Homo sapiens: one gene and its partners. The main gene of each other region encodes a partner of the protein of the gene in region 2 in a complex. Each region holds a gene or a part of one and is shown on either strand. Other genes may lie near its edges.

Region 1 (5,235 bases), on a different chromosome or scaffold from region 2:
TTACTCTTGGCACACACACTTTCTGTTGACCCAGCCTGCACGCCCCAGAGTCAGTGCATCAGAACGCGCCCTGCTGAAGCTTGAGTCCCAGTCCTGGGCAAAGCCCTCCCTTGGTGGCCGCCCTTCTGGCTCTTCTACCTTGGTACAACAGCAGCACCATCCCTCAGCGCTGGGCACCTACTCTAAGCTCTGGAACAGTGAGACCTGATACGGATAACCTGGCCCGGGGCTGAGGGTAGAAAGAAGGAAAAAGGGAACCGGGAATTGACTTTAAAAGCTGCAAACCCGGAGATCAGGCGGGAAGGGAAAGGAGGCTCATGCCCGTCAGGGCTGTGATGACTCCCACACCCACCGTAAATCCTGGGACCCCTGGCCCTCGGGCTGCCTGCCATTGGAGTTGGCCTCTTGGGCACTGCAGACCTTGTCCATCTTTTCTAGCATTTGGGGACACACCTTGCCTGGATGATCAGCTGGGTGACACTCAAAGAAGGACACAGCACGGTTTTTAAATAACTTTATAATTTCCTGGTGGATTTAGTTTGTGAATAAAAAAGAAAAAATGAACAAAGTGTTTACAATAATTATCAAGGCAAAGTTGAATATAACACAATTTCTTTGTAATGTCATTATCCTGTCAGTAACACAACTCCAGCAGGAACACACACATACAGCTGAAGGCAGCGGGTGCACGTGCATCCCAGACACCACCATGGAGGCTGCTACTGTTACCAAAAGGAACTCAAGCTACAAGGGGGCAGGTGCTCCTCAGCTCCTCCACTAAAGTGCAACACTTCTCTTCTGACGCATCAGGGAGCAGTCACAGGCCCCACTGGATATCCTGCAATGCCCGGCAGGTGCCTGGGCTAGTCCTGCGATGGGCCAGCAGGCCAGAGTGGGTGGTGCTGCCCTCAGGATGTGTAGCTGCAGTAGATGGATGCAATACTGGCGTGGTGTGGAATGAGGGGCTGGACCCAGAGGGCCTGCTTTGGCCGGGGTGAATTCTCTGGCTTCAGTAGGGTTCACTTCCTTTCCTGACAGTGGCTTCTCTGGGGTCAAGAGAGAGCCTGGGCCTAGGAGATCTAGGGTCTAAAAAAGCTCAAAGGGAAATAATTGAGGGCCTGAAGCCAGAAGGAACTGACATGGAGGACAGTCTGTTCCACCTGGATTGCAGGCTCCAGGCTGGCCAGTGCTCACCCGTGCTGGGTGGTCACTGGAAGAGATAGCACCAAGTGGGCAGGAGAGGTCCTGTGGCCTGCCAGGCAGGGGCTTCAGGGTCAAGCCCAGGTTACCATGCAGTATTAGGCACACTGAGCTAGAACCCACGTCGGGTGAGGGTGGTTATGGGGTCACAAACTGTGAAACCTCTACCCAGAGGTCCTGAACATGTATAGGAAAATCCTGGCACAACTGCGAGGCTCTGAGCCCCAGATTCTCGTTCCTTTTGCTCGGCAGGTGTCTCTTGCCCAGGCAGGCACTACCCTAAGTGTGCTCCATGCTTCCTAAGCCGCCAGCCCAGGGCCACCTATGCCAGCCTGGGAGGAGGGGAGTGTGGCTGCCCCATAGCTTGAATTCCTTTATTAACAAGATATTGGTTTGCATTTTTAAAACACAGCTGTTTAATTTTTCATTTCTACAACTACGTTTTAATCTTTTAATAATCTCAACAACAGACACAATGTAACTGCCCCAATTCTCTGAATCACACAGACAATATCGACAAGCAGAGAAAGAAGAGAGGAGGTGGGATGGGACAAAAACCCGCTCCCCCAAATCAATCCCTAAAACCACTTCTCCCCCAAGAGTCAGGAGAAGTACCTACAACAGGGCCACAGCACTTGCCAAACACATTGGAAAAAATCAGGAGACAGTTGGTTACATTTTTGACACTAAAAAGTCTGGAGACGGTTTTTGCTGAAGAGTAGGTGAAGATAGCCATTTTGTTCAGAAGGATTTCCCTGTAATGTATGTCTTTTCTTGCAAGAAGAGTAGGTGAAGACAGCCATTTTGTTCAGAAGGATTTCCCTGTAATGTATGTCTTTTCTTGCCTAATTCTTCCCTAATTTGCATGGGGGAAACTCCAGATCCTCTTTAAGACATTCCTTTGAGTGGTTCACGTCCCCTCCTGAGCAGCCCAGGGCTGGCAGTGATGGACGGGCGGCCTCACTCTGCAGAGGGTGCCTGCTGCATTGCAGTCTCTTCTCATCCTTCCTCCTCAGTTCCGAACCCAGGCAGGTGAAGAGGAGGCCAGGAGCAGATGTTAAATTACTGGTATTTGCTGACACAGGGTCCGCTGGGCTTGAGAAATGCCATGTGGTGTCACACTCCACGCAGCGGTCTTCTCTGCTTGGCTCTTTCCTCAAAGACTCTGAGGGTCTTGACACCGGGCCTACACTCAAGTAACATGGTCAACAGGAGGGCGGGATGGTTCTGGGAGGAACAGGACTCTGGCAGCAAATCCAAATGCCAGTGGATGGGCGGCTCAGAAACATTTATATTTTGGGGTGACACATGATGGTTGCCTCACAACCCTGACCCTCAATAGCGGAGGGATTAGTTCAGCAGGTGGCTAAGACCGTGTCTGTGATGACTTCGCCTTCCTCTTCTCTCACTCTGGGGGTGGGTGAGCCCGCAAGTTCCTCATGGAAAACCAGACTTCAATGGACAGAAATTGAGGGGCAAGTCACAATGCCCTTCTTGACACTGAAGGCGGCCTTGGGTCCAGTCTGCTTTACAAGTTATTTCTAAAACCCAAGTGTGAGGAAGTCTGAGAGCCACAGGTAGATCTTTAGATTGTAAAGTGCAAGGACAAAGGTTAAAAGGTTAGAGCTGAGATGAATTTGGTGATTCCCATCCATATATATATATATATATATATATATATATTTTTTTTTTTTTTTTTTAAATGGAGTCTCTGTCACCCAGGCTGGAGTGCAGTGACACGATCTCGGCTCACCGCAGCCTCTGCCTCCCAGGCTCAAGCGATTCTCCTGCCTCCTGAGTAGCTGGGATTACAGGCGTACGCCACCACGCCTGGCTAATTTTGTATTTTTAGTAGAGTCGGGGTTTTTGCCATCTTGGCCAGGCTGGCCTCGAACTCCTGATCTCAGGTGATCCGCCTGCCTCAGCCTTCCAGAGTTCTGGGATTACAGGCGTGAGCCACTGTGGCCGGCCCCATCCATATTTCTTAAACATGTTAAAGCCCGTTCAAAATTTTTCCATTTCAAATGGTATCAAAGTCCTTGCAAATCTCAATTGAGATACCTCATCAATGATTCAATGAGTACCGGGGGTTAGAGGTATATGAAAAGATGAGAAGCTCACACTGGGCTTCTTCAGTTACAAAACCCCGTTGGGATCACACCCACTCTTCTTCGTGCCCTCTTTATGGTGACATTGGTTTGGGGTGCAGATCTTTAGGTGCTAAAGGGCAACTAGACTTGCCGATGGAGGGGTTTGGGGAAAATTAAGGGCAACCTGCACTGAGTTTTCAAGGCTATATAACTTCAGTAGCAGTTGTATGCCCATATGAAACCATGACCACTAGGAGAGGGGCATGGAATGACAAGTCCTAGTGTGATGGGAGTGGGACATTTGGTTAAGTGTTGGTTCAATGATCTAGACTCAATGAGACACTCTGAAAGCTACAAACTGCATCCACTCTGCCCTACAGCACGAAGGCCACGTTTATTACTGAACTCCTAGCCAGCCTCCAGTGCCCAAGAACGGTCAAGAAGATTCCTTGCTGTTCACAGAGACCAGACAGATGATATCGGTCCCGGAAATGCTTCTTCTCAGAAGCAGTGTCACAGAGGGCTTCCTTCCATCCGTTTTTCTGGAGGGGAAGTGATGGAGAATGCTGAGATGAAGAGGAGAGTGACACACCCAGTGGCTGAGAGTGGCAGGCGCTGCACCTGATGAGAAAGTCCACGTGGGTGGGATCTGGGCCACCTGCTTGGAGAGAGCAGCTGGCCAGTGCCCGTGCCAGACCACTTGTTTAGGCATGGCCTCGCCTGCTGTCTTGGTTCCACCGTGGCCCCGTGAAGGCTGTTATCACACCGCAGTTCTTTACGTTATGGTGGATAAAGCGAGATGCTAACACTCCTGCCTTTCAGTGCTGGGAGCTTTCTACATGGTTTACGGGCACTGCAATGAACAGAATTGAGGTAACTGACCACAAACGACCACCACTTACTATCTAACCCCTGCACCCCTCTCTGGCCAGCCTGGCTATCAGGAAGCATCTCAGTAAGAGGTTTATGAGCAGAGTCCATTTAACCTTCGATAAGAAACGCTCCACAGTTTCCTCTCACAGGGAGAGGGATTGTTTCACAGCAGGGAGTAGGGGGAGCTGGAAATCTGACCATGTCAGTTAATGGGACAGTCAAGGGCTGGTGGTGGGAAGTTCCTGGACTGATGGGGCTGTGCTGACTCTACAGACTTTAAATTCTCTGAGTAAGTGGGGAAGGAGAGGAGAAAATGCAAAACAAAAACATCGAGTCCAGCAACTCTTATCAGGAGATGTGAGTGTCTGCTGGGTTCTGGTGGTAGAGGTGGTCAAAGAACTAGATTTGGGTTAAGTTCCTGCCTAATTATTTATGACTGCTGTTGTCTACGCTACGTCCTTAACAATGCCAATACCTTCATTGATTTGCAGTCTTGGGGTCAGCTTTCTGATTTGCAACATGAAGCTGGCTGAATTCCACGAGGTACATGCAGATGTCAGGAAATGGCCACCCACAAGTAGATACTCAGAGCCCCTCTAAGGGCAATAACAAACAGCAAAAATCCAGAATCATCAAATGGAATCCTACAGGCAAGCGGGTGACTGAGACCCCCAAACTCATGAATTCCATTAGGGAACTTTTCTAGAAAACACACCTTAAGATCGGGGAGGGGAAGGACATGCTATTTACTGCTTCAACTCCAGCAGGTATGTCTCACAGAATCCACTACATCTCTCCCTCACTGAGAAGTGGCCTTTTCAAGGATGGATGACTTGCACACAGTAGGCATTTCATAAATATTCTCTGAATGAAATAACCGAGGAAGGAATGTGTGTAGGAGGAAAAACCTTCATTTATGCTAGAAGAAGGTTCCAGGCAATGCACGAGGCTGAGGTTCAGAGAAGACGAGTCAAGGGCAAAGCTAGCAGGGTGAGTGAGGGATCACAACTTCAGCAGCCACTGGGCTGCAGGAGCTCAGGACACGGGTGCTGGCAAGGCAGGCAGCCTCTTG
Region 2 (7,958 bases):
CATATTAGCTAGCAAAGGGGCTGAATCAGGGCTTAAAACCCAGTTCTGCCTTACTTCACAGTCAATGATTTTTCCACTGCACTTTGCAAGTAGAAACTTCTTGATTCATTAAATCATCATAATATTAAAGCGAACTTCAGCACAAACAATTGTTCCATGAGTTAAACTGCAGTAAGATTGAAATGAGTTAATAGCTACAAAGATTTGTTAGGCTATCATTGCAGAGAAAGGAGCAAATATACAGATTCAGGACATAAAAAGTTAATCAAATCCAACCGATCTTTTCTAATAAAAGAGAACAATAGCAAAAATAATTACAAATGGAATAACATAAATAATTCATAATATCACTGTATGTGTTTCAAAGTGAGCAGGTATGTACAAACCTACTCCCAAAGACCACAGAAGCTGAAAAGCCAAAGAAAGAGGCTGACAAGTCCAGTTTCTCAGAAAGAAACATTTAATAGAGACTTATGAACAGAAGCCATGTCCCCAGTGGCTGTGAAAAAAGATGGTGCATCTCCACGCTGTCACTCCCAGAGTCAAGACACATAAACTAAAGGAAAAGAATGTGTAGGAGAATTGAAGTCGACCCCTTGGGGAGAGGCAAGAATGCTCTGTGAATCTGCCCATGGGCAGGATTTATGGTCAAGGTTGTTTTGACCCAGGGGCAGGATTTAAGGTATCAGTAGATAAAGTACAAATCTTAGAGTAATTCCCAGAACTCGGGTTAATCAGAAGTCAACAGGTAATCTTCCATGGAATTAGGGTAAAAAGAAAAAAAAAAGTCAGCATGGCAGATTAGCATCCAAGATAGAGTTGCTTTAGCCTCAACACTGTGCAACACTTTAAGGTTCCCCACCTGAGAGGGTGAAGGACACAGGAAAGTAAGATCAGGGACTGTAACCACTACAGATCCTGGAGAGGCAAACAAGAAAGGTCTGCTGTTTAGTTTACAACACAATATCTCTAGTGATAAGGAATGGCAGAGCGCAGGCAGGACTCTGGTCTGTGATTAAACAGAAAACTTTATTATAAAGAACCCAGGAAATAGAAAAGGTAGAAAGACTCTCTCTTTCTTCCTTCCTTCCTTCCTTTCTTTCTTTCTCTCTCTCCCCCTCCCGCGCTTCCCTCTTTTTCCTTCCTTCCTTCCTCCCTTCTTTGCTTCCTTCCTTCTTTTCTTTCCTTTCTTTCTTCTTTCTTTCCATCACCATTACTAAAAGAAAGTCTGGTAATATAATAATAACAATAACAGTTGCACTTTATTGAGTGCTTTCTATAGATGTTGAGGTCTGCATTTGTCTTTTTTTTTTTTTTTTTTTTTTTTGGCGACAAGGTCTCACTCTGCCACCCAGGCTGGAGTGCAATGGTGCGATCATGGATCACCCAGCCTCGAATTCTCAGGTGATTCTCCCACCTCAGCCTCCTGAGTAGCTGGGACTACAGATGGTGCACCACCATGCCCGGCTAATATTTTTGTATTTTTAGTAGAGACGGGTTTTGCCATGTTGGCCAGGCTGCTCTGGAACTTCTAATCTCAAGCAATCCTGCTACCTCGGCTCCCAAGGTGTTGGGATTACAGGCATGAGCCATTGAGCCTGGACTGAATTTATCTAATTTAAGACTTGCACCTTCAGGGTGGTCTCGTCTATCTTCAGGCTGCTATGGCCTTATGAAAGCTATTGAAAACCACTCTAACTCATCAGGAATGGGAAACTTTGCTGGGTTTAGTCACTTGAAAAAGTCACATTCAATGACTACTTTTTGAGTCCCTTCCATATATAAGTCTTGGAGTATGATTCATACAAATATGAATAAAATGACTCCCTTTGCCTTCTAGGAGCTTGGCTATCCTAAGAGATAGAGATGCTAGCAGATAAAACAAGGCAGTGAAGGGAGGCCAGTGAGGATTACTTTTTGTCTAGTAATTTGGAATTATTCATTATACAGAAATATCCCCTAGTAACATTCATACTTAGAAAAGAGGTAGAAGGTAGCATTAAAGACAATGAACTCAAGAACAAGTGCTCAAATTCTGCCTCTACCAACTTATTACCTGAGTGACAACTGACTTCTCTGTGATTCCTTTTTTACTTATAAAATGGGAGTAGTAACAAACAGTAACTCTCACCGCATCAACTAATATTGTCCTATATTTGGAAGAATACCGGATACGTATACAATAGTAATTATTGCTCTCAATAAATTTAGCTATTTTTTTCTTAGACATAAATATTGGCAATCTAATTATGGCCATTCTAAATGTGCTGTGTTGGTGCACATTCTCCTTAGACCTGAAGGGAGAAAGGTTGTCTCTAAGATGTCTGTGTAGTCAAGTGTATTTCTGGCATTGCTCGAGGCAAGGAAATGTTTGCAACACAGTGCTTTGGGTCAAAGCCATCATTTATTCTTGAGCACCATTTACATGTCCGGTATCCTTGTAGGCACACTAGGGATATAGCACTGGAGAGAACAGGCAAAACTCTCTGCCTGCCTGCCTTACATTCTAGTGAGGAGAGACAGACAATAAACATAATTTAAAAAGTACATTTTACAATATAGTAGAATGTGGTGACTTTGTCAAAAAGTAAATTTAAGTAGTATGGAAAACACATTTTAAACTTTTAAGTAGAGTGGTCAGAGCAGGCCTGAGCAACACGGTGACATTGAACAGGGTCTTGAAGGAAGTGAGGGAGTGAACCATGCAGATACTTGGGAGGAGGGAATTATAGGCAGAGAGGGCAATTAGAACAAAGGCCCTGAGATAGAACGGATTTACCTAGGAATCTAGTCTACGAGGCCACTGTGGCAGGGGCTAAGTGAGTGATAAAGGGGAAGTAGGAGGCTGGGCACAGTGGCTCACACCTGTCATCCCAACACTTAGGGTGGCGGAGGCAGACAGATCGCTTGAGCCCAGGAGTTCAAGAACAGTCTGGGCAATGTGGTGAAACCCCATCTCTGCAAAAAATTCAATATTAGCTGGGCATGGTGGTCTGCACCTGTGGTCCCAGCTATTCAGGAGGCTGAAGTGGGAGGATCACTTGAGCCCAGGAGGTTAAGGCTGCAGTGAGCTATGACTGTGCCATTGCACTCCAACCTGGGTGACAAAGTGAGGCCCTGTCTCAAAAAAAAAAAAAAGAAAAGAAAAGAAAAAAAAATTCCAAGGTAATGGAAATAAAATGATTGTATGTTTATGGGGATGATCCAAAAAAGAGGAGGAAAGAGATGACGTGGGTGAGAAAAGAACATTGCTGGAGCACTTAACTGTTTAACTGTTGGATTGATCAGTGTATGTATGCTTCTGCAGGGCAAAAACTCAGGACAGGGAAAAGAATTCCTCTAAAAAACCCGGCATTCCTAACAAACATATGAAAAAAAGCTCATCATCACTAGTCATTACAGAAATGCAAATCAAAACCACAACGAGATACCATCTCACGCCAGTTAGAATGGCAATCATTAAAAAGTCAGGAAATAACAGACGCTGCAGAGAATGTGGAGAAATGGGAACGCTTTTACACTGTTGGTGGGAGTATAAGTTAGTTCAACCATTGTGGAAGACAGTGTGGCGATTCCTCAGGGATCTAGAACTAGAAATACCATTTGACCCAGCAATCCCATTACTGGGTATATACCCAAAGAATTATAAATCATTCTACTATAAAGACACATACAAACGTATGTTTATTGCAGCACTGTTCACAATAACAAAGACTTGGAACCAACCCAAGTGCCCATCAATGATAGACTGGATGAAGAAAATGTGGCACATATACACCATGGAATACCATGCAGCCATAAAAAAGAATGAATTCATGTCCTTTGCAGGGACGTGGATGATGCTGGAAACCATCATTCTCAGCAAACTAACACAGGAACAGAAAACCAAACACTGCATGTTCTCATCATAAGTGGGAGTTGAACAATGAGAACATATGGACCCAGGGAGGGGAACATCACACCCTGAGGCCTGTTGGGGGGTGGGGGACAAGGGGAGGGAGAGCATTAGGACAAATAACTAATGCATGCGGAGCTTAAAACCTAGATGAAGGGTTGATGGGTGCTGCAAACCACCATGGCACATGTATACCTGTGTAACAAACCTGCACGTTCTGCACATGTATCCCAGAACTTAAAGTATAATTAAAAAAGAAATTTAAAAAAGACATTCCGTAGGTGAGGCTCTCCCTAAAAGTCAAACTTTTACTTGCACATATGAAAAGTGTAATCATTAAATAAGCTATTTCTTCAGTGACGGTATACTGAGTTCTGCTCATGGTGCCAAGTACTTTGCATATATTATTCAGAAGCTTATTAGCTGCCCTGCAGCACCAGTATCATTTATTGCTGCACTCCAGGTGAAGAAATTGTTGCTGGGAGCTACAACAACTTGCCCAAAGCCACAATGATCATAAGTAGTTTGCGCTTCGTTGTGCTCTTCTTTGCTGGTGTGAGATTCTCGAGGGCCAATGTCCTTCATCTGCGTAACTCTAGGGACTCGCCCAGACCTTGGAAGAGGTTCACATTCCCGCGTGCCGAGATTGATTATGGGCCACCCTCGGTCTCATTCGTTGACTTCCAATAAAGCATTGGCTGGTGGACCTCTACATCAGCATTGTTTTCATTGGATATAGCAACTCAGAAAAATATTGGGGAAAATATAAAAACTTTCAAGAGATATGATTGCAAGAAAATCAGAATGAGTTTAAAACCCTCCTGACCCCAGTCCTTAGCTCAGGCCGTTCTCCAAGGATTTTGCAAACCTGCTTTCTGACGCAGCTGGTAAACTTGCCCCGGGGCGAACTGTCGGAAGGAGGTGCGGTCACCTGGAGTTTCCCAATAGATACTTCGCTGTCTGGTGAGGAAATCATCACCCTAGGACGTAAACCCTCCCGCCCTTCTTTCAGCTCTTAAAAAAAGCCTGCCACGAAAGTCCCTACTGCGTTGCTGCGAACGTAGCTTTGAGAAGCTGGCGCCCAGTGATGGGGCAAACAGCCATGCCCTTCCAGCAGCCGTGAAAGCCCCAACAGCAAACTGCCTGGGAGCGGGGCAGGTCACCAACTTCGTTGCTCGAACTCCCTGGGTGCCCGCCGCGGTGGTTACAAAGGGGGTCAAGAGTGCCGGACCCAGCCGCGCGGAGCCCACCATTGCGGCCCGAGGGGGACCCGACGGGGGCCCGACGGTGTGGCGTGGCGCAAGGAGCGCGCCTGCCTTCTCTCGCCGCCGGGAACGGGCTGCACCAATGGCCAGGTGAGGAGGCGGCGGTGGTCGCCCGGGAGGAGGGGGTGGTGCCGACTCCGTGTGCCAGGAGTGCGTCCCGGGGACGCTGCCTCCCCCGCGGCCGAGTTGGTTGCCGCCGGTTGCGCTGCGGAGGGTTGGGGGCGGAGAGGAGGCAGTGGCTGCCCGGGCCGAGGAGGGGCGCGCTGACTGCTCACCGCGAGTCAGGAGGGGCCGGCGGGCTCACGGAGGGAGACAGGGTGGGCGGGGGCAAAGGCTAGGCGCTAGGGCGGCGGCGCCAGCGTAGAGCGGCGGTTTGGAGGAAAGATGAGACGGTGAGTGGGCTCCGGGGACACAGAGTTTCTTTGCTTCTTTACAGGCTGTAGGGACAAAAGCCCGGGCTGGGGTCGGCAGTGCCCAGGCTGCGCAGCTGGGTGGGTGGGGGTGGCGAACCCCGTTGTGCATGACTCTCGGGGGGCTGGGTAGATCTCCGGTTGAGGGGATCCCGGGGAGGGAGTGTCTGGTAGGGAAGATGCTTCCAGAGTGATTGTAGAAAACAGGCAGAATGTGGGGGAACTGGGGGCAACTTTTTCCAGCAACTCTGGAATGCACATGGAGAGAGGGATGGGGATCCTTGGGATAGCTCCCTGAGAAAGAGAAGGTCCGCTGCTGGATGGTGTAGGGCGCGGGATTCAGAGAAGACTCCCTCCCCGCAAATATTTGGCTAGCTGCGCTTCTAGTTCCACTTTCTTTCAAGAGTGAACCTACGAGCTTTAACCGCCAAAAGCGGCTGATTTCGATTTGGCCTTTGACCCCCCACTGAAAGTTTACAGTGTGGCCGTCTCGGCACCCCTAGAGATAGCAGCTGGAAGGCTTGGGGAGTATTTTAACCCTCTGTTTCTCCAGCTCCCTGCGCGGCGGAGGCGCAGCTGAATCGTTTGCTGGTTCGCTTAATAACTTAGCCCTAGCAGTCATCACTTATTAAAGCGCCGAGGACCTGGCTAACTCCCGCCACCACCAGGAAATTAAAAGGCTGACAGGCTGTCCCTCCCAGGGTTGGGGTTTCCTGTTTGAAAGAGCTTGAGAAGTCAAACTGCTTCGCGGTTCCTCACTTACCTTTCTTATGTAAAAGAGGGAGCGACGCCCGCAGCTTTTTCTCTCGGTAAACTACCCGTGGCTGGAAATCCTCCGGGCGCCTGGCCCTGCCCTCTTCCCTAGAAATCTTTATCCTGCAACTCTGAAGTAGCTCTAAAGAGCTCTAGAATGCACAACTAGTCATAGCCAGGCACAGCTGGGAGTGTAACTAGACGAGGCATAAAAATGTGGAGTCTTTTTAGTGTAAATATTTGTCAGCCACATTTCCCTTCGTAATATGAACGTGTAAGTTACAGATGTAGGTTTTCAAGTATTGGACGTGTAATTTTAAGCTTCCTAGTTTGGTTTAATTTGGGCGTTCGAGATATGTCTCTGGGATTCTAACGTTTGAATTCGGCTGGGAGAGATCTAAATGAGGTCCACAGTTTCAGAAGGTTAAACTTTTGCCCTGTGAACACTTGAATTCTTGGTTCCTGGTAGGTTAGCAACAGAACTGTCGGATTTGGGATAAATAAACCGTTAGAGTTGCCCACTATTTTAACAGAATGGCTATATCTCTCTTGCCGTTGCCTTCAATTGTGTAAATATTTGTTTGAATAAAGAGCGAAGGTTCTTTGAAAAGTAACAGTTCTGTCTATTCTTGGCTCCCCTTTCATATCCTCTGCTTAGTTATTTAAAAGGATTTTCTTTGCCTCTTACATTTAATGGGGAAATTTAAACATTACATGTACTTAAATTCTGTAAAGTTACCAAACCATTTATAACTGGCAAATTATTTAATGACAAGGAAGAGTTGAGTTTGTCGTCTTAGTTGGCTAATGTAGCCTTCATCTCTTGAGACCCAGAGGTTTGCAGATCTCAGCCTGTCAGAAGTGGAAAAATGAGATGTCTGGTTAAGAGTAGTCATCATTTCAGTCAATTTGCAGGCCTCAATCTGTTTTATGCAGCTGGCAGCTGCTGTTCTTTTGGTGTTGAGATCGTCTGCCACGAGTGTCGCCTGGATCCCTGTTTGAAAAGGGGAGGAAAAGATACTTGGGAAATTGGACTGAGAGCTTGCTTACTCCTCCGTTCAATAACTGTGACCAAGCTGAAACTCGTTAGCAACCTTTCCAGAAACGTTTTATTTACCATGTGTGTTTGTTGTGTATGCAAGAGAGGAAAAAATAAGCCAAAGTGATTAACCAATCTCTGGTTTTCCCTATTTTCTTCAAAGCTCCATTTTGAGATCTATAAGCAAGGGTTGACTCTCGAGTTCATTGGAGAAGTTACCTCGGCTCACTACAACTTCTGCCTCCTTGGTTCAAGCCATTTTCCTGCCTCAGCCTCCCGAGTAGCTGGGATTACAGGCGCCTGCCACCACACCTGGCTAATTTTTCTATTTTTAGTAGTGACAGGATTTTGCCATGTTGGTCAGGCTGGTCTCAAACTCTTAACCTCAGGTGATCCACCTGCCTTGGCCTCCCAAAGTACTGGGATTACAGGCATGAGCCACCACACCCGGTCTCCTTTTAAATATTTTTAAAGGAGTAGTTAACGTTATGGCTTTATATCCTGATTTTCAACCCTTAGCAGGGAGGCAGTGCTATGGTGCTGTGGATGGCTTAGAGTGACAGTGGCTTTGTACATTTTCTAGGTGGAGTACCTGT
Region 3 (7,944 bases), on a different chromosome or scaffold from region 2:
TGAGGTCTTCTTTCAGTTAACAGTTTGAAAATTATGCTGGTTTGGGATATAAACGAAAAGTTAATTTTAATGTAACAAATTATCAACATAATCTAAATTTACTTATACAAATATTTTATGAATAGGAAAGGTTTTAAAAGAAGTCAGCTAGTCAGTAACTGAGGGGAAAAATGACCTTGTTCTGATTTATCTCACGGTGGAACAGGGAGCTACAAAAAGACTACATAAACAGTTAATTAACTGTCCCTCGGTGAACTTGTTCCCAAAAAAATGTCAGTGATGCCCTTGAAATTAGGCACTATTGATCTGGAACTTCAGTGTGTCCTGGATTTCAAATCAACATTTATCCATTAAGGCCAGATGACCTTAATTTTTATTTTATTTATTTATTTTTGAGATGGAGTTTTGCTCTAGTCGCCCAGGCTGGAGTGCAATAACGAGATCTCAGCTCACTGCAACCTCCGCCTCCTGGGTTCAAGCGATTCTCCTGCCTCAGCCTCCCAAGTAGCTGAGATTACAGGTGCCCACCACCACACCCGGCAATTTTTTTGTATTTTTAGTAGAAATGGGGTTTCACCATGTTAGCCAGGCTGGTCTCCAACTCCTGACCTCAGGTGATCTGCGTGCCTCAGCCTCCTAAAGTGCTTGGATTACAGGTGTGAGCCACCAAGCCTGGCCGACCTTAATTTTTAAAGTTGCTCTTGGAAATATGACAGTTGTTGGTCACAGGAATTTAACCAAAAACTGATCCTACCTTTCTCAATAACTCAAACATCTTTTAAGTATTCCGTGTTTTCCTACACCATATCTGCCTCATAAACATGGACTGAGAAAGAGAAATATTGGTTTAAATTAAGTATGTAAAATTACTGCTATTATTCAAACTGTGAATCAAATTTAGAGTTTTGGTATATTCAAGTCCCTAAACTAGGACTAGTTTCTTGGAAAGAAAGTGTAAATCTGAATTTGGCACATAAGGATAACATCCTAAAGATACTCTTCTTTACTGAACCGTCTGGCTTTTGCAGCCCCATCTTTTGGTATTACAAATGCAGTTGGAACACTATCAGCCAAGGAACACTACCGTGAGTTCACATTAGCCCACAGGAACTCCACTCCACAGCTCTATCCTACTGAAAAAGTACACTGGAAAATACAGTATGTTTTATGTACTCCCCATAGAACATAAATAGAAAAGACTTGTTCACCATTATTGCAGAGCCATTTGCAATTTCTGTGTCTTAAGCCAAAATACAAACCAAAATTAAAATGTTGTCTTTCCAATAAAGCGAATTTTCCTTTCTCAAAAAGCCTGCTATTTTATCCACTCTATTTAATTTTTTCAGGAACTAACAACAATACAGACCCAGGTATGTCATAAACAACAGCACAACCAAACACTTCTTTCTAGTTCTGAAACCTAATGATCATTTGGCTAGAAAGATAGAGAACCCCATCTATAGTCCTCTATCCCTTTTCCTGACTTGGGTTTACTAGACCTACTGTTGTGGCTTCTTTCTTTCTCCATCTCCTGGAAATGCCTTTTCCCTTCAGGGGCCTGGGATACGGATTTTGACTCACAATGAAGTCCACTCCCATTTCCTCCAGACCTGGCAACAGTAGGATCCTCACTGCTGAGGAGGAACTTCGGTGAAGGAAAGGGGAAACTTGACTCAGGAGTCTCAGCGCTTACTTTTTTTTTTTTTTTTTTTTTTTCCTTCCTGCTCCAAAAGAGAGCCTTAAAGCACTGATGAGAGGGTCCTGAATCGGTGTATGGAGTCAATTTCCCCGCCCCCTCGAGAAAGTCAATCACACCCAGTTAGTGACCTGGGCACACAAAATCTCCACATAGGAAAAAGACAGGGTTTGAAATAGGAAATAAACAAAAATCAGAATTCTATTCTTTCACTTCTTAAAAGTATCTTTTTCCTCCCGCAATTGCTTTCTCAAAATACCAAACTTGGACTTTGAAATCAAGTTCTTTTTCTATTGCTCTCCGCAGTTCTTACTGAAAGCAAGGATTTGTTTTGGTCCCACATGTTGAAAACTTCACGTCCCTATAATTAAGAGTTTATATGCCACGCCTTCCACCGCGTTTCCCTGTTAAAACTCCCTTCTCTAAAAAAGATCCCTGAAAACACAACTACCAGCTCGCCCCTCAAGCAGCCACAGGAAACAGATCTGAAGATTCTCAGCAGCCATCCTAACCTCTCCAGATATAAAGCTGGCAGCTGAAGGGATTTCTCGGTTAAAATGAGTGAATACTAGTTGCAGTTTTAGAAGTGTGCCCCCAAGAGACGAGTTTTCCCGCAAGCTCATAATTAATAAACACCCCAAGTGAATTTCTCACATCCTGACTGGATTACACAAAAGGATATTTTACATTGATATATAAGACTAACATTGATATTCTTTTAATATATAATAGGCCACAAGGAGACAAAAAAATACAAAACTTTTTTTTTCTTTTCAACGAGCATAATTTTTGAGTCGATGATCCATAATTTTTTGTGGCATTTTTAAATGCCTCAATACACACAGACAGAGAGACACACACGCCCCTCTGGTTGGGGTTCTCAGGTATTACCGGGAGCCTAGGGTGTGGGGGTCTAAGGATACAGACAAGACCTAAACGTCCAATCCTGGAGTATTCTTCACGTACAAGCTCGGTCCAAGCCCCAGGAGTTAAGCCCTACCCCTCCACCCCCACCACCCCCAAAAAGTGCCCGTTCCCATTGGGAAACAGGAGTGAGTTGCACAAGGAAATCGACCCGGGGAAGAGGAGGAGCAGCTGCAACAGCCAGCTGCAGCCACACAACGGTGCCACTTCCCTCCCGTCTGGGAGTGGAGCAAAACGCCCTTACCTGGGGGGTGGAGAGCCGCCGGCACTAGTTCCAAAAGTTCTGGTCCACCTCCTCTCGGAGTTCAAAGCCCCAGCACTCCGGCCCGGCCGCCAGCTCGCAGCACACGAGTCCTTCCCCGTCCTTTCCCCACCCTGCCTGCACTACACCATGTCAGGAATCCGGGCAGGCACCGAGCTGGGAGCTGACATCACTCCCAGTTCCAGGTACCTCCCCCTCCCACTGCCGCCCTTCTCTCCTCCCTCCCTGCAGGAATCAGCCAAAGAGAGTCAGCAGTGGGGCGGGGCCGGGGGCGCCTGCGCGCCCGCTGATTGGAGCCGGGGAACGTCACTCAGAGGAGTCCACTAATTTTATGCATTCCTCGCTGAGCCAGACTAGGGCTGGAAGTGGGTGGATGGAAGAAAATGCTGCCCTTCCTGCTATCTCTAAGGAACGGAGATAATCCGATGGGGAAGAACCTGGCGGGTCGAGTTTTAAACTTTTCTTGTTGTAGTTACTGAGATTCCAGATCAGAAACGAAACTAACCCACGCGAACCCCCTTTTTAAGGAGAAACAATTGCCTCGGTGTCACAGGCACACGGGCATGTACAAGCCCGGCGGCGCGTGGTGTAGAAAATGGCTAGCTTTAAGCCATGCAAATAAAGGAAAACGTCAGCTCACCCTTCTGCCCTTTTATCCTGGGACTGCTGGGTGTTCCCTTAGACGGGGAATGTAGAACTTCAAAAGCACTTCAGAAAGATTTGGAAGAGACTCCTGAAAACGGTGACCGAGCTTTGAATTGTTAAGTGGTGGTGTTGTCAGCCATGTGGCTGCTGTTGCTTTTAGCGATGAAAATCACACCACACAAGCTTCTCGGGCAAGTAAAATTGAATCTCTGAAGCAAGAAAAATGTATTTCCCCGTTTAAAGACCTTAAGGCTGCTGTTTCAATGCACACACTGAAAAGGGTGGAGGAAGGAGGGACCTCACAATTGAGTTCCACAAACCACATGAGAATAATTACTGTAGAATGGAACCAATTGTAGTGGCTGAGCTCTCAATTAAGAATTAACTAACGTTTATCCTTGACAGATATCATGCGGTATAATCCCCTTGGCTGACAGAAGAAAAAGATTCTCAGAAAATGGTTCTTTCAAGGCAGATGCTGCTTACAGGCAGACCTGAATGGTGAAAAGCAGCTTTATTTGTATGAGATATAGGTAGCATATAACCCACCATCTTCTAAAAATATAGTGAATTAATAACTTTCTCTTTTTTTTCTTCTTTTTTTAAACAGGTCACTCTGCCACCCAGGCTGGAGTGCAGTGGCATGATCTGGCTCACTGCAACCTCCTTCTCCTGGGTTCAAGTGATTCTACTGCCTCAGCCTCCGAGTAGCTGAGACTACAGGCGCCCACCACCACACCCGGCTGATTTTTGTATTTTCAGTAGAGACGGGGTTTCCGCCATATTGGCCAGACTGGTCTCGAAATCCTGACCTCAGGTGATCCACCCTCTTCGGCCTCCCAAACTGCTGGGATTACAGGCGTGAGCCACCACACCAGGCCTCATTGTTTTTTGATTGATGACATGCCATACATTTACCGATCTGCCAAAAATTGTAGAGGGATGCACAGAATCCAGCATTGTGTCTTGTTTAATCTTCTCAATCATCCTGTAAATTGAGTGTTACTAGCCCTATTTTAACGTAAGGAATCAAAGGCTCAGCAAAGTTATGTAAGTAAATTTCTCCAAATCAGCTAGAACTTGGATTGAAACCGAGGTCTATTTGACTCCAAAGCCATTGATTTTCTTTCTATATCTCAAGTATTGAGTGTCCATAATTTATACTTTTTCAAACAATAGAATGCTACAAGAAATCCACAGGCTTGGGCCACTGCTCTCACAGACCTACTTTATATAATTACCATCTTGTTGCTTGTCAGACCTGCAGTATTCCAAACTCCTGACTTGAATTTCTGACTCCAGTTTCCCCCAGTTCTAATTATTTCTCTGTACCACTCACTACCGATGAGTTTTCTAAAATGTTTGGTTTTGTCATCAACATCTTCCCCTCTAAATCAGGTCCCCCTTTCCCTGCAATTCTTATCTAGCCATTTAAAACTCTCTCTTATCCTGCTTCTTACCTTTCCCAGCTTATCTCCCACTTCGCTCCCAGGAAACCCTCTCTGTAGTCAAACAGGTCTACTCACAGATCCCTGCTTCGTTCTCACCTTTCAGCCTAACCGAAATCCCCACTCCTCTGTGGGTTAAGTCCCACCCTTCTCTCAAAGCCTAATTAAATTAAAGTCCTTGTCCTCTGCCAAGACTTAGCTGTGTGTTACAGTGGACAGAGAAAAGGACTCAAGGTTCTTGGCCTGGCTCTGCCACTTAGCTATTGGGTAACTTTGGGCAAGTCACTAAAACATCCATCCCGAATCTCAGTTACCTCCTCTTTAAAATAGGGCTGACAATACCTATGTTAAAGGTTGTTATAAGGATTGAGATTGTACAGATGTGTAAACATGTGGTTATACATGTCCAGTTAAATGCCTTTCCTGCCTTCCCAAACTCTGAAGAGCAAGCATCTTGCTTATAGGACCTCTTTATATTCCTTATACCCAATTCAAGGAAAAGGCTCAATAAAAATATAGGGCATGAGAAAATAGATCATTGTATCATTTCTATTCTCTTCCATTCTTTAAATGCAGTCTATCCCCAAATAATCTCTCAGACAAAAACTTTAACTGTTTCTTCTTGTTCTTTTTTTCCTCTCTCTTTCTCTCTTTTTATGCCAGAAGGGCCAGAGCCCTTCTGTTCTCCCACACCCCTACCCACCGTTCGTTCAACACCCTTAACTTCCTCAGATCACTTCTGGACCAACTACTTCACCTGTCTCTTAATTAACTACTGACCCTTCCCTGTCCCACAGTCAGGGACACAACTTGTCCATCAGTGTCTGTTGCCTGCCTTGCTCCCAGATGCCTTCAAACGGAGGCTGGGTGGCTACCAGCCATTCCTCCAGCCCTAGTCAGGACGGCTGCAGCCAGGCTCACATTTTTCCAAAACTACAGCCAGCCACAGGAGATGGGGGAGGGAATGTCCCACCCCCACAGAGATGGCAGGATAGAAAAACAGGAAGTCGCCTCCCATCCTTTCTGCAGCTGGAGTGATAACAGCTGCCATCCAGAATCCAGAAAACAAAAGACTCAAAGGGAAGGCTGAAAACGGGCCAGGTCTGGAGCAGTAACATTCAAGCTAGAGGTTACAGAGTGGGTGAGGGAGGAACCAATGGTTGAGATTTCAGCCTCCTTCTACCTCCCTTTAACCAGAGTTACAGCTCTTTTATCTGCTCTACATTTAGGCTTCACCATGATACTTCATTTTTTGAAGACAGTGTAACCCTTAAATAAACATACTGAAATCACTGGCCTCTGGGTGTCTTGGGGAAACTCCAAAAAAATCAGGATAGTGCAGCAGAAGCAAGACAGGATGCCTGATGAGCAGGTAGCCAGAACTTACTCCTCACTATCCCGGCTCCTGGCTGGCTTAGTGCAAATGATCATTTATGATTCCTATGATTTCAACGCTAATTTATTCTGTAGGTCTAGATATTTTCTGCCTAGTTATTCCTATGACTAACCTTACCTTTGGTAACTTTTTGCCAAAGAGTATCACTATTGCGGGGTAGGGAGCAAGAGACACTGCAGAGCAGGAGAACACCTGCTCAATTAGAACTTGAAATGGATCCTAAAAGTCATTTGATGCAACCACTATTAAAATGCAAGAAACCCTTCTTCAGCATTCCTTACAGGTAGCTTCCAACCCCTGCTTGAACTTATCTGGCAACCAGTAACACACAAAATAAGCAAGCAGCCCACCATTAAAGATCTTTCTCGGTTGGGCGTGGTGGCTCACGCTTGTAATCCCAGCACTTTGGGAGGCCGAGGTGGGCGGATCACCTGAGGTCAGGAGTTCGAGACCAGCCTGACCAACATGGAGAAACCCCGTCTCTACTAAAAATAGAAAAAAAATTCGCCAGGCGTGATGGCGCATGCCTGTAATCCCAGCTACTCGGGAGGCTGAGGTGGGAGAATTGCTTGAACCTGGGAGGCTGAGGTTGCGGTGAGCCGAGATCGCACCATTGCACTCCAGCCTGGGCAACAAGAGCAAAACTCCATCTCAAAAAAAAAAAAAAAGGGATCTTTCTCATATCCATCTGGATCCTGCTTTACTGACTTTCTCCCCAAAGACATCTGTCTTGTGTCTCATTTAATCCTCACAAACATCCTGTAAGGTAAGTGTTATTAGCATCATTTTGACATGAGGAATCACTCTCCAGGGTTATACAAGTAAATTGCTCCAGATTCCCCCAGAACTGGGATTGAAACCAAGGTCTATTTGATTCCAAACCTATTTTGTCTTTCTGTGTCTGAAGCATTGATTGTCCACAATTTACACTCTCACTTCTGCCCTTTGCAGTAACAGAACAAGCTGACTCTTTAGTTACACCATCCCCAAATCTGAGCAGGCTTGAGGACACCTCCCTTTCTTTGGATGCAGGTACCAGAAGAGGCTCACCCTACTCATCAAATCCACAGCATTTGCCTGTCTGGTCTTTACAGGCTTCCAGCTGCAGCTCTCTAAAGCACAACCCTGATCACTCCTGACTCTAAACACTTAAATGAGTCTCCCTTTACCAAGGAACAAAACTCATCAAACTTTCTTGACTGGTGTCCAAAAGCCTTCACATCCTTGCCCCCAACTTACCTTTCTGAACTTATTTTCGACTCTTCTTCATATGCCCACACTGCATGCACTGCATGACTTTGCACCCATATTTCCTAATAATACATCCTCACTGTGATTTTTGCCTGTTTCTACAAAAATCTACCTCACAGTGTTGTTGCAAGGATCTGACAAGATGTCATATGCAAGATGACAGAGCACCTTGCCTGACACATCATAGGTGATAAGCAAACATATTTTCCTTTTTCCTACAACATAAAACAATTGTACTATAATTTTTATAGGTGCCTTATGTTCCTTTCTGGCTCCAAGTTTCTTACAGTCCTCAAGAACAGAATGCTAATTTATTTCATCT
Region 4 (7,026 bases), on a different chromosome or scaffold from region 2:
CATACCTATAGTCCCAGCTACTCAGAAGGCTGAGGCAGAAGGATTGCTTGAGCCCTGGAGTTTGAGGCTGCAGTGAACAGTGATCACGCGCGCCACTGCACTGCAGCCTCGGCAACAACAGGGTGCCTGTCTTTTTCTTTTTCCCCGAGACGGAGTTTCGCTCTTGCCACCCAGGCTGGAGTGCAATGGCGTGATCTTGGCTCACTGCAACCTCCGTCTCCCAGGTTCAAGTGAGTCTCCTGCCTCAGCCTCCCAAGTAGCTGGGATTACAGGCATGTGCCACCATGCCCGGCTATTTTTTGTATTTTTAGTAGAGACAGGGTTTCACCATGTTGGCCAGGCTGGTCTCGAACTCCTGACTTCAAGTGATTCACCCACCTTGGCCTCCCAAAGTGCTGGGATTACAGGCGTGAGCCACTGCACCCAGCCACCTGTCTCTTAAAAATTTTTATATACATATATATTTATATATATATATGTATGTACGTATATATATATACACACATATATACACACATGCTAGCTCATGCCTGTAATCCCAACACTTTCGGAGACTGAGGCAAGTGGATCACTTAAGTCCAGGAGTTTGAGACCAGTCTGTGCAACATGGCAAAACCCCACCTCCACTGAAAATACAGAAATTAGCCAGGTGTGGTGGCACGCACCTGTAGTCCCTGCTACTCAGGAGCTGAGGTGGGAGGATCGCTTGAGCCCAGAAGGCAGATGCTGCAGTGAGCTGAGACTGCACCACTACACTACAGCCTGGGCAACAGAGCGAGACCCTGTCCCAAAAATATACACACACACACATCCCCCACACACACACAGGCCGGACACGGTGGCTCACGCCTGTAGTCCCAACAGTTTAGGAGGCCAAGGCAGGAAGACTGCTTGAGCCCAAGAGTTCAAGACCACCCTGGGCAACAGAGAGACCCAGTCTCTAAAAACTAAATACACACACACACACACACACACACACACACACACACACACCTAGACACATACACAGAAAAGGTCTAGAAAATACGGAAAGGAGCACAAGAGACACATAGGACATGATAAAAGCCTAATGTATATCACACCATTGCACTCCAACTTGGGCAACAATAGCGAAACTCCATCTCAAAAAAAAAAAAAATGCCTAATGTACACAAAAATGGAGGCCCTCTGAGTGAAGATGAGTGGAAAATAGGAATATTTATAGAGAGAAGAGCCAAAACTTCCAAAATTGATTAGGAACCAGGCCACCAATACAACAAATACCAAGTTTTGCTAATGCCTGAAGCAAAGAAAATGTTACAAGCCACCAGAGGCAGCTTCAAATCCTGGTGTGAGGAATGAGTAGATGGTGAGATCTTGCTGTGTGTCTGATTAGTCCTTTCTCTGCCTTGCCTGTTTGAGCTTCAGCAGAATTGAAAATGGCTGGCAGTAAGGCTGGGAAGGACTCCAGAAAGGCCAACAAAGGCAGCTTCCCACTCACAAGAGAGCCAATTTGCAGTTCCTGGTGGGCCGTATTCACTGACACCTGAAATCTAGGACAATCAGTCCTGGACGTGTGGGCGCGACTGCCGCTGTGAATAGCACAGCCATCCTGGAGTACCTCACCGCAGAGGTACTTGAACTGGCAAGAAATGCGTCAAAAGACTTCACAGTAAAGCATACTACCCCTCATTACTTGCAACTTGCCATTCGTGGAGATAAAGAATTGGGCTCTCTCTTCAAGTCTACAATTGCTGGTAAAGGTGTCATTCCACACATCCACAAATCTCTAATTGGGAAGAAAGGACAACAGCAGACTGTCTAAAGGCTGCCTGGATTCCTTATTATCTCAGGACCCTAAACACTCTACCAGCTGTCCAGTGTGGCTGATTCCAGTGAACTATATCTCTGTGAAAAACACAATTCTGCCTTTCTGTAATTCTACTTGAGCAAGTTGGAAGTTTAATTAGCTTTCCAACCAACAAATTTCTACATTCAAGTCTTAACCATATTTGTTACTGTGGCTTCAAAGAAGCTATTGATTCTGAAGTAGTGGGTTTTGATTGAGTTGACTGTTTTCAAAAAACTGTTTGGATTTTAATTGTGATGGAGAGTTATAGTAACAAACATTTGGTTTTGCACAAACATTATTTCCACTCTGGTGGATAAACTCAGTAAAAGTCATATCCTCTCCAAAAAATAAAAATAAAAAGCAACCAGAGGGGAAAATAAAAAGAAGTATTACTTCAAATGGGACAACAATAACACCAAAAGCTGACTTGTCAAGAAAAAGGAAGCGAGCTAAAAAAACAATGAATTCGCTGCTACAAAATGGTGCAAGGAAATGACCACGATCCCAGTATTCTATACCCAGCAAAATCATCCTTCAAAACTGAAGGCAAATTGGGCACAGTGGCTCACACCTGTAATCCCAGCAGTTTGGGAGGCTGAGGCAGGCAGCTGCTTGAGCCAATGAGTTTGACCCCAGCCTGGCAAACATGGTGAAACATCACATTTAAAAAAAAAAAGGCCAGGCATGGTGGCTCACGCCTGTAATCCCAGCACTTTGGGAGGCTGACGAGGGCAGATCACCAGGTCAACAGATAGAGACCATCCTGGCCAACATGGTGAAACACCTTCTCTACTAAAAATACAAAAATTAGCTGGGCGTGGTGGCACGTGCTTGTAGTTCCAGCTACTCGGGCGGCTGAGGCAGGAGAATTGCTTGAACCCGGGAGGCGGTGGTTGCAGTGAGCCAAGATCACATCACTGCACTCCAGACCGGCGACAGAGCGAGACTCCATCTTAAAAAACAAAACAAAACAAAACAAAACAAAAACTAAAGGCAAAATAGAAAATTTTCAGGCAAACAAAAATGACAATTCATTATCCACAGATATGAACTCAAAGAAATACCGTAGAAAGTTCTTCAGGGAAAAGAAATATAGGCTGGGCGCAGTGGCTCACATCTGTAATCCCAGCACTTTGGAGGCTGAAGCAGGCAGATCACTTGAGGTCAGGAGCTTGAGACCAGCCTGGCCAACATGGTGAAACCCAGTCTCTACTAAAAATACAACAATTAGCCGGATGTGGTGGCATATGCCTATAGTCCCAGCTACTCAGAAGGCTGAGGCAAGAAAATCGCTCAAACATGGGAGATGGAGGTTGCAGTGCGCCAAGATCGTGCCACTGCACTTCAGCCTGGGCAACAGAGCGAGACTCTGTCTCAAAAAAGAAAAAAAGAAAAAAAAAAAACAAGAAATATAATCCCCGGCAGAAACATGAAACAACAATAAAGAATGAAGAGCAACAAAAATGGTAACTAAGAGGATAAATCTAAATAAACATTAACTGTACAAAATAATTATGATACTGCAAAAGTATATCTAAAATTAAAGTACATAAACTTGTAAGATGCAGCTAAAAGCGTGTAGTGGCTCACGCCTGGATCCCATTGTTTTGGGAGGCTAAGGGGGGAGGATCACCTGAGGCCAGGAGTTGAAGACCAGCTGGGGCAATACAGCAAGACGCTGTCTCTATTTTTAAAAATAAATATAAATTAAACTGAAATATATAAAACAATGACACAAAAGGTAGGAGGGAGTTAAATCCAGTTCAAGTATCTAAGGACTTGACCCTGGGAGACACAATGAGACTGTGCCTGGAAAAAAAAAAATATATATATATATATATATATATCTCAATCAAACAAAAAAAAAGCAAAAAAAAAAAAGTAGAAATTAATGCAATAGAAAACAAATGTAAGTAGAAAAAAATGTAAAGCCGAAAGTTGGTCCCTTAAAAGAACTTACAAAATTGACAAACCCCCAACAAGACTGATTAAGAGATAATATATGAATTACTGATATCAAGAATTATTAAAAGGGAACATCACTACAGATCTTGCAGATAATAAGGATTACAAACCACTTTAAACTTACAAATTGGAAAGTCTGGGTGGCCTGAACAAATCTCTAGCGGGGAAAAATGCTTTATCTAAATAGACACATGAAGAAATATTCAAAATCCTACATCTACCTATAAAATTAATTCTAAAATTTTTCCTTCTCACAAGGAAAACCCTGTACCAGCTGGTTTTGCCAAAGAATTATTTCAAACATTTAAGGAAGAAAACACAAATTTCGTAGGAACTCTTCTAGGGAGTAGAAAAAGAAGGAATACATTCCACCTTGTTTTAAGAAACCAGCATAACCTTGATACCAAATCCCAACAAGGGTACTGAAGGAAACTGAAATTATAAGTCAATCTTTCTCGTGAATATAAATGCAATAATCCTAAACAAAATACTACCAAATATAATCCAGTAAAAGGAGAATACATCAAGATCAGGTTGGAATTATTCTACAATTGTAAATTTTTTTTAAAAGGGAGGTGCTCTTTCTCAGGAGCTCCTGAAGTTGCTTCCCCAGGCTACAAACAATATGCAATTAAAAAAAAAAAAAAAAGCAAGGCGCAGTGGCGTGCGTCTATAATTCCAACTACTTGAGAGGCTGAGGTGGGAAGATCACTTTAGCCCAGGAGTTCAAGGCTACAGCGAGCTATGATGGTGCCACTGCACTCCGGGCTGGGTAATGGAGCAAGACCCCATCTCAAAAATAAACAAACAAAAACAGTTAAATTCCCACATAACAGAAAAATCACATGACTGTCTCAAAAGATGCAGAAAATCCATGTTAAGAAATTTAATACCTGCTCATGGTTTTTAAAAAACTCTTGGCAAACTAAGAAGAGGAGAATTTTTACATTTTGATAAAGAATATCTACAGGGCCAGGTGTGGTGGCTCACAGTGGTAATCCCAGCACTTTGGGAGACCAAGGTGAGAGGATCGCTTGACACCAGGAGTTGGAGACTAGTCTGGGCAACCGAGTGAGTACCCTTTTCTTAAATTACCAGATCTCAAGACAGACTATATCTATGGGAATTTAGACATTGTGCTATTTGTGCAAAGATGACAAAAAGATCAAAGGAGCAGAAGAGAGTCCAGAAACAGACCCACACACTTACAGTCACTGGACTGAGATGACACTGCATGTAGTACACTGGGGAAAGAATAGTCTTTTAAGAAATTATGCAAGGTCAACTAGATATCCATTTAAAAAAAGAAAGAGAGACTCTTGGCCCCATCGCATACCATAAACAAAGTCAATTTCAGATGGAAGATTAAAAAATAGTTTTTAGAAGACAATGTAGAATATCTCATGAACTTGACCAAGCAAATTTCTTAAACAGGACACAAAGAGCATTAAACATTACTGAAAAGATGGATCAACTGGGCTACATTAAAAATTTTACACTTCTATGTATCAAAAGATACAACTGAGAGAGTGAAAAGGCAAACACAAGAGTCTAAAAACAATCTGTCATGCACATATGTACTCAGAATATAGAGAAAACTCCTTCAAATCAGTAAAAAACAAAACAGACAACCCAATCAACAGATGGGCAAAAGATAACCGTTTCACAAAAGACATCCAGGTGGCCAGTGAACACAGGTAGAGATGCTTTACCTCTGCATGTTCCTGGCCATCAGGGAGCAGCAAATTCAGACCATACTGAGCCACCTACCAGCTAACAGCCACCAGAACAGCTAAAATGTAAAGACCCAACAATACCAAGTGCTGAAGAGCATAGGAGCAACTGACTTCTCATACATTGCTGGGGTAGTACAAACTGTCACAACCACCACTTTTGGCACTCTCTACTGAGGCTGAACAAATGCACACACCATCATTTGCATTCCACTTCTTTGTAGAAATCCAACAGAAGTGTACACATATCCTCCGGCCTGGGCAACATGGTAAAACCCCACCTCTACAAAAAATACAAAAATTAGCGGAGGGTGGTGATGCGTGCCTGTATTCCCAGCTACTTGGGAGGCTGAGGCAGGAGAATCGCTTCAACCTGGGAGGTGGAGGCTACAGTGAGCCGAGATCATGCCACTGCACTCCAGCCTGGGCAACAGAGTGAGACCCTATCTCAAAAAAAAAAAAGTTTATAGACATCTGCACCAAAAAACAAACAATATTAGGGGAGCACGTGTAAAAACTGGAAACAACCCCAAATGTCTGTGAGCAGTAGAAAGAATAAGTTCTGTCTGTTCGTGCACGGGATGACCAGAGAGCAGGTGAGAATGAGCAAGCTGCATCTCACAAACATGATGCTGACGACAGAATGAAGAAGCAAAACATACAGATTATTTTACTTCACTTAAACAAAGTCAAGAACAGGCAAAAGTAATCAATGGTGAAAGGTCAAGACCTTGGTTAGCTCTGGGGGACAACTACTGGGAATAGTTAGGAGGGGACTTCTAGGAAGCCTGATAATGTTCCATTTCTTGATCTGGGTGGTGGTATGCAAGTGTGTTAACTTTGTGAAAAGTCCACTGAGATGTATACTTACGATTTGTGAATTTTTCTGCTGTATGCTATAGTTATGTATATTTTTAAGTACACTCTAACTTGCCTCCACAATGTGCCAGGAGCACAAATGCACTTCCTGGACTCATTATCTGGTCACACTACCAGCCACCAAAGATGAACCAGATGCCAGGAAAGGGAAGGGTCCAAAACAAGTTTACTTAATAGTTTCCATTTTTGAAAGGCTGGAATCAGGTGCTCAGGTGGTAACGTGAACCGTTGGCATCATCATGTTATCCACTGAACTAGGCATTCCCAGGCTGCTACACTGAGCAGTGCCAGAAACAAATCACTGAGCAACCATGTCACCAGTGTGTGTGACAACCTCCACAGCCTGCGACTAACTGTACAAAACTCCTGTCACTTCCCTGACATGTCTTGTGTGCCCATTCTTTCCAAAACCTACCTTATTAAGTATATTAGTATTTGATATACACTTCAATACGTGTACCTTAAATTACAAATACAATAAAATCCTGGTAAAACATAAATTGGCTACTTCTTTTAAAATTGTAGTAATAAAATTCAACATAAATAAACTTGGTAATTTATAAGATTGAAATAAGAAAAATCTTAATGATTCTTTAATCCAACAAAAAAGGAACATAG

What was found.
Region 1: PHLDB2 (region 2) and ERC1 share a complex: the UniProt entries of both Homo sapiens proteins name them as parts of the cortical microtubule stabilization complex.
Region 3: PHLDB2 (region 2) and PPFIBP1 share a complex: the UniProt entries of both Homo sapiens proteins name them as parts of the cortical microtubule stabilization complex.
Region 4: PHLDB2 (region 2) and PPFIA1 share a complex: the UniProt entries of both Homo sapiens proteins name them as parts of the cortical microtubule stabilization complex.

The regions. Positions count from the first base shown.
Region 1 is NC_000012.12:1,491,197-1,496,431, reverse strand, and holds the end of ERC1 (ELKS/Rab6-interacting/CAST family member 1), read right to left. Parts: 3' UTR 501-5,235; downstream 1-500. UniProt on the Homo sapiens protein: Regulatory subunit of the IKK complex. Probably recruits IkappaBalpha/NFKBIA to the complex. May be involved in the organization of the cytomatrix at the nerve terminals active zone (CAZ) which regulates neurotransmitter release.
Region 2 is NC_000003.12:111,854,327-111,862,284, forward strand, and holds the start of PHLDB2 (pleckstrin homology-like domain family B member 2), read left to right. Parts: upstream 1-4,938; 5' UTR 4,939-5,250; intron 5,251-5,500; exon of another isoform or gene 5,501-5,552; intron 5,553-6,333; exon of another isoform or gene 6,334-6,490; intron 6,491-7,958. UniProt on the Homo sapiens protein: Seems to be involved in the assembly of the postsynaptic apparatus. May play a role in acetyl-choline receptor (AChR) aggregation in the postsynaptic membrane.
Region 3 is NC_000012.12:27,519,286-27,527,229, reverse strand, and holds the start of PPFIBP1 (liprin-beta-1), read right to left. Parts: upstream 3,025-7,944; 5' UTR 2,865-3,024; intron 1-2,864. UniProt on the Homo sapiens protein: May regulate the disassembly of focal adhesions. Did not bind receptor-like tyrosine phosphatases type 2A.
Region 4 is NC_000011.10:70,273,690-70,280,715, reverse strand, and holds part of PPFIA1 (liprin-alpha-1), read right to left. Parts: intron 2,102-7,026; exon of another isoform or gene 1,313-2,101; intron 1-1,312. UniProt on the Homo sapiens protein: May regulate the disassembly of focal adhesions. May localize receptor-like tyrosine phosphatases type 2A at specific sites on the plasma membrane, possibly regulating their interaction with the extracellular environment and their association with substrates.